Linked DNA regions of Homo sapiens. The protein of the gene in region 1 interacts with the protein of each later gene in a biochemical or structural test. Each region holds a gene or a part of one and is shown in the gene's direction. Other genes may lie near its edges.

What was found. Proteins that work in one complex are often made in the same cells at the same time.
Region 2: the proteins of MORC2 (region 1) and SIRT2 form a complex in vitro, tested with the Homo sapiens proteins (one study listed by BioGRID).

Annotation. Positions count from the first base shown.
Region 1 is NC_000022.11:30,937,620-30,941,274, reverse strand, and holds part of MORC2 (ATPase MORC2), read left to right. Parts: intron 1-437; coding exon 438-517; intron 518-1,233; coding exon 1,234-1,316; intron 1,317-1,568; coding exon 1,569-1,654; intron 1,655-3,069; coding exon 3,070-3,210; intron 3,211-3,305; coding exon 3,306-3,460; intron 3,461-3,563; coding exon 3,564-3,655. UniProt on the Homo sapiens protein: Essential for epigenetic silencing by the HUSH (human silencing hub) complex. Recruited by HUSH to target site in heterochromatin, the ATPase activity and homodimerization are critical for HUSH-mediated silencing.
Region 2 is NC_000019.10:38,880,333-38,882,766, reverse strand, and holds part of SIRT2 (NAD-dependent protein deacetylase sirtuin-2), read left to right. Parts: intron 1-1,275; coding exon 1,276-1,335; intron 1,336-1,611; coding exon 1,612-1,667; intron 1,668-1,869; coding exon 1,870-1,946; intron 1,947-2,030; coding exon 2,031-2,082; intron 2,083-2,434. UniProt on the Homo sapiens protein: NAD-dependent protein deacetylase, which deacetylates internal lysines on histone and alpha-tubulin as well as many other proteins such as key transcription factors.

The DNA of each region.
Region 1 (3,655 bases):
TGGGTCCTAGAGGAGGGACAGATCAGCTGTGGAGGTGGCTGGCTAAGCTCATTGAGTATGTGTGCCTCTGTGACAGGGAGGGTGCCCTGCCTGGCTCAGTGAGCTGTCTGAGTCTCTTGGCTTTAGGGCCAAGGGGCCTTTAGACACTATATAGGAAAGCAGTGGGCTTGGCTTACTCCTGAGGTTTGTTTCTGCTGTGGGATGAATGACAACCCTGGTGAATGGTGAGGTTGCTTATCAAAGACAGCAGGAGGCTAAGGGCAAGTGGAATAAGGAACTGCACCTTTTTGCTGAATTGAGCTTGGATTTGTCTCATCATGAGGGGCCAGGACAGCACAGCTTGGGAGGAGGCAGGAAGGCAGGGTGCTTCCTGTGCTTGGGTGTGCCACCTGCCCCACTGCTGCGTGGGCCATCAGCTTGCTTTTTCTACTGATCAGGATGTACAAGTACACGTCAAGCCGTTTCAAGACCCGTGCGGAGCAGGAGGTGAAGAAAGCAGAGCACGTAGCAAGGATTGGTAATGCCACTCTGGGTGCAGGAGTTGGGGGGGTGTGCATCTGGGGTATGCTGCTTGTGGGCAAAGTGGGGTTCCAGGAAAAGGCTGAGTCCACAACTCAGGGACAAGGCTGGTCTCCTGAAGCATAGTTCAGTTCCTTTGCAGCCCCTTTCACTACATGCCAACTCCCTCAGCATTTCTTCTTTCTACACTCCACTTTCTCTTCTTCTGCCATTTATAGGGCCTAAAAGTGTCAGCTCTTTGGCTTATCCCAATTGAAGAATCCCACTGAGTTCTCTGGTGCAAATACTTGTGAAATTGCTTTTCCTGACTTCAGGGCAAACATCTCAGGGGCTCTCTCGCTGTTCAGGGTTTCTCAGGGTTTCTCGGCTGCTTGTTGGAGAGTGATTGGCTGAAGACTTCTTTAGCTTCCAGCTCAAGCTGAGTGTTCAACTGGTTGCCTTAGGTGTTTTTTTTTTTTTTTTAAACCTGTTCTGGTTCATTTGTAAAGTTTCCTTGGGGCCTCCGTGATAGGTTTGAATGCCAGATTTTCCTTCTGTGACTGACTGCCGTCCAGGCACAGAGGCTGCCCTCACATTGCTCACCAGCCATAGCTCCCCCTACTCTTTTTTTCCTTGGTGGTGTACACACTTCGTGTCCAGTACTGTGGATCCAGGAGGGATGACCAAGAGTTTTGAACCTTTGCATTTCTTACCATGTTCTCTTCTGGGTTTCAGCTGAAGAGAAGGCGCGGGAGGCAGAGAGCAAAGCTCGGACATTAGAAGTACGCCTAGGTGGAGACCTCACGCGGGACTCCAGGGTAAGGTCCCGGCCCAGGCGGCTGTTCTCCAGCGTTTCTGGCACTAGGAGCCCATGTCCCATGAGCCTGGTCAAGTAAAACACAGCTTTTGAGTTTGTCCCCAGTGAGGGCTGTTTTCTGTAGAAAGAAGTAAATTTCCAGGTGTGGTTTTACATCTTTGAGATAAATTGAGATGTCTTAGATGTAATGTTTCAATATTCCCTGCTGTGGCCTAGAGTGCCACCTCCCCTCACCTGATGTCAATGTGTGCAGGTGATGTTGCGACAGGTCCAGAACAGAGCCATCACTCTGCGCAGAGAAGCCGATGTCAAGAAGAGGATCAAGGAGGCCAAGCAGCGGTGAGTGCCAGGCCTGTCCTTGGATCTTTTAAACTGACGTAGCTTTTGGACTGATTATTGACAGGTTGCTATTCTGTCACCAAGACTGCTTTGTTTTAATGCCAAATGCTTGTCAAATGCCTCCTGCAGGAGGGAAGTCTTAATCCTAGCTCTCAGCCCTTTTTTGAGTCATAAAGACAGGGCAGGGCTGACAACCTCGGCTCGAGCACCAAAACCATCCTTTGGCACTGTCTTACCTTTTCTTCCCTTTTTCTTTCTTTCTTTTCATTTAAAGGATGTATAAAATGCTCATTGTATGAAACTTGAAAAATATAAAATGTTTAAGGAGTAACATTTTTAAACTCCCTTATACTTCTACCACCTGGTGATACGACCCTATTTTTTATGTTACATATATATTTTTTCATATTCATTTTCTCCTCAGTGGTTATGTATGTAGAATAATGCTGGAGATTGAGTGTTGTATACTTTTGCATTTAGAACCAGCATTTGTCCTGGATCATTAAGTTTCCTGCTTGTCCCACCTCCATGTCTGGATCCTCTTTGGACTCTGTGGCTTGATTCACTGTTTTGCCTCTTGTTGGCCTCCTTGGCACAGGCATGGGTTTCAGGTTTTTTCTCTCCAAGTCAGTCCACTCCTCATCCATCTGCTTTTCAGCTCTAAGTTTTTGTTGATAGTAATCACATGATGGTGTCTTATTGCACATGCTTATTATTCTTGTGAATTTTTGCCTTTTAAAATAATAATAATTGGCCGGGCACGGTGGCTCACGCCTGTAATCCCAGCACTTTGGGAGGCTGAGGTGGGTGGATCACGAGGTCAGGAGATCGAGACCATCCTGGCTAACACAGTGAAACCCTGTCTCTACTAAAAATACAAAAAATTAGCCGGGCATGGTGGCGGGCACCTGTAGTCCCAGCTACTTGGGAGGCTGAGGCAGGAGAATGGTGTGAATGCAGGGTGCGGAGATTGCAGTGAGCGGAGATCGCACCACTGCACTCCAGCCTGGGCGACAGAGCAAGACTATGTCTCAAAAAAAAATTATAATAATTTACTATCATACTAGTGGAATTTTGGGGAAGGTATGACGATAACCTGGTGTTTATTCCAACATATAATTGTCTTTGCACAGATTTGCAGCAGCTTCGTAATAAACAATTCATATTTAATGAATATGAATGGTTTGGCAACCATCCCTGTTGCCAAAAAGCCACACTCATGTTTTTAATTAGGGATGCTTTGAGTTGGTGCCCAGTGCATGTCCATATCAAGTCTAACAGGTTACACATCAAATAGAGATACAAAACTTTTGGCTTAACATGTTTCAAGTTTAAGCTTAAGCTTAACACATCTTAAACACTATGGTGCTTGTGTGCCGATGTGTAGATCTGCTTGAGTTTTTTTGTCTTCTTAGAGCACTTAAAGAACCTAAGGAACTGAATTTTGTTTTTGGTGTCAACATTGAACACCGGGATCTGGATGGCATGTTCATCTACAACTGTAGCCGACTGATCAAAATGTATGAGAAAGTGGGCCCACAGCTGGAAGGGGGCATGTGAGTACTACCCACAGAGAGCTGTCTAGCCCAGGATAGTTGGCAGGAGGGCGTTGCCAGTGGGGTGACAGAGCTTGTTCTCTTTCTCCCTGTAGGGCATGTGGCGGGGTTGTTGGGGTTGTTGATGTGCCCTACCTGGTCCTGGAGCCTACACACAACAAACAGGACTTTGCTGATGCCAAGGAGTACCGGCACCTGCTCCGAGCAATGGGGGAGCACCTGGCGCAGTATTGGAAGGATATTGCCATCGGTAATGGGGCTGGGCTGCTGGGCCTCTGCCTTTTCTCTTCACCTGAATGTAGGGAGAGAGAGAGGCTGGCTCCTAACATGATGTATCGGTGTTTGCTTTCCAGCCCAGAGGGGAATCATCAAGTTCTGGGATGAGTTTGGCTACCTCTCTGCCAACTGGAACCAGCCCCCATCCAGTGAGCTGCGTTACAAACGC
Region 2 (2,434 bases), on another chromosome or scaffold:
CGACTACTGACATTGAAACAATGCTTTATAAATGTGTGCTGAATGAATGAATGGACAGTTGAGCAAATGACTTAGAATTCAGTGGGTTGCAAGTGACAGAAATGCTTTCTTTCTTTCTTTTTTTTTTTTTTGAGATGGAGTCTTGCTCTGTCACCCAGGCTGGAGTGCAGTGGTGCAATCTCGGCTCACTGCAACCTCCGCCTCCCGGGTTCAAGCAATTCTCCCTGCCTCGGCCTCCCAAGTAGCTGGGATTACAGGCACGTGCTACAACCCCTGGCTAATTTTTATATTTTTAGTAGAGACGGGGTTTCACCACGTTGGCCAGGCTGGTCTCAAACTCCTGACCTCAAACGATCCACTCGCCTCAGCCTCCCAAAGTGCTGGGATTACAGGCGTGAGCCACCACACCCGGCCAGAAATGCTTTCAAGCTTCCTAAATCAATAAGAAATAAGGCCAGGCACAGTGGCTCATGCCTGTAATCCCAACACTTTTGGACGTCGAGGTGGGTGGATCACTTGAGCCCAGGAGTTTGAGAACAGCCTGGGCAACATAGGGAGATCCCATCTCTAAAAAAAATAAAATGTAGCCAGGTGCGATGGTGGATGCCTGTGAGCCCAGCTACTCGGGAGGCTAAGGCAGGAGGATCACTTGAGCCTGGGAAGTCGGTGGTGCAGTAAGCTATGATCACACCACTGCACTCAACCATGATTGCACCACCACACTCCAGCCTGGGCAACAGAGTGAGAACCTGTCTCAAAAAAACAAACAAACCAATAAGGCCGGGCGCAGTGGCTCACACCTGTAATTGCAGCTCTTTGAGAAGCCAAAGTGGGCAGATTTGCTTGAGCCCAGGAGTTTGAGACCAGCCTGGGCAACATGGCGAAACCCTGTCTCTACAAAAAATACAAAATTTAGCCGGGCGTGCTGGCATGCACCTGTAATCCCAGCTACTCAGGAGGCTGAGGCAGGAGGATCACTTGAAGCTGGGAGGTTGAGGCTACAGTAAGCCATGATCGTGCCACTGCATTCCAGCCCGGGCAACAGAGTGAGACCTTATCTCAAAAAAAAAAAGAAAGAAAAAAACAAAAAAAATGCAACAACAAGAAGAGAGGTCTTTTCTGAGCAGAGTGGACACCTCAGGAGACACCCATCACACTCCAAGTGATGGAGGTGTGTTCATGTTAACAGTGGAAGAGGGGTGGGGGTGCTGCACCTCCAGACTCCGGCCCAGATCCTCTTACTGCCTTCTCTTTCTTCCCCTTCCCCATACCCAGAGAAGATCTTCTCTGAGGTGACGCCCAAGTGTGAAGACTGTCAGAGCCTGGTGAAGCCTGGTGAGCCTCTGGCCAGGGACCTGCCCAGGTGGATTTGGGTGGGGGTCCCCTCCTCCCCCTGACCCCCTCCCAAAGGCCACACCCGCACACATCTGGCCACCTCTGTCTCTCTGAACAGTGCCCCAGATCCATCCTGGGGAGAATGGGGTCTGTGCCCCTGGCCGGTCCCCACTGCTCCCAACTCCCACTGTGGCCTCCGGGTCTGCCATTGCTCCCACCTGTCCTCTCTGCCTCCCCATGTCACTGTCTCTGTCCGTCCATCTGTCTCCACCTCAGATATCGTCTTTTTTGGTGAGAGCCTCCCAGCGCGTTTCTTCTCCTGTATGCAGTCAGTAAGTGGCCCCCCAGCCTCCCCGCATCCCCAACCGCCGCCTCCACCTGTGCTGGGCCCCATGGGGGCAGCCTGGGCCCTGCCTCAGGAAAGGTCACCTCCCCAGCTATGGGGGGCGGCAGGGAGGTTTGCTGCTGGGGGCGGGGGAGGGAGCGGTGGCGCAGCCTGGGCGGAGGCTCCCAAGCTCACGCCCCTCCCCGCAGGACTTCCTGAAGGTGGACCTCCTCCTGGTCATGGGTACCTCCTTGCAGGTGCAGCCCTTTGCCTCCCTCATCAGCAAGTAGGTTGGGGGCTGTGGCTGGGAGGACGGCTGGGCACCCAGGGCCAGGACAGACCCTGACCCCTTAGCTCCCCCTCCCCACAGGGCACCCCTCTCCACCCCTCGCCTGCTCATCAACAAGGAGAAAGCTGGCCAGGTAAGAGCCCTTCTTCAAGCCCCCGTCGTCACAGGCTCCCCCTTCCCTCTCACCCTTTTCCTCAGAGGGAACCCCCACTGTGGAACCCCAGCACTTTGCATTCCTCAGCTCAGAACCTGGGGCTCTAGAATCCAGAGGGGTCGGGTTCCAGGCCTCTGGGACATTCACTGCCCTTTTGAGCAAGTGATAGAATTCCAACTCAAACCAGCTGAAGCCAGATAGGAAGGCCGGGCTTCCAGGGACTGAGGAGGTGGGAGGGGGTGCAGGGGTCAGGAGAGACAGTGCGGGGGGCGGGGTTGGGTCCACGCTCTGGGTCTCTCAGGTCTGTTTTTCCTGGGCAGCCTCACTCTAG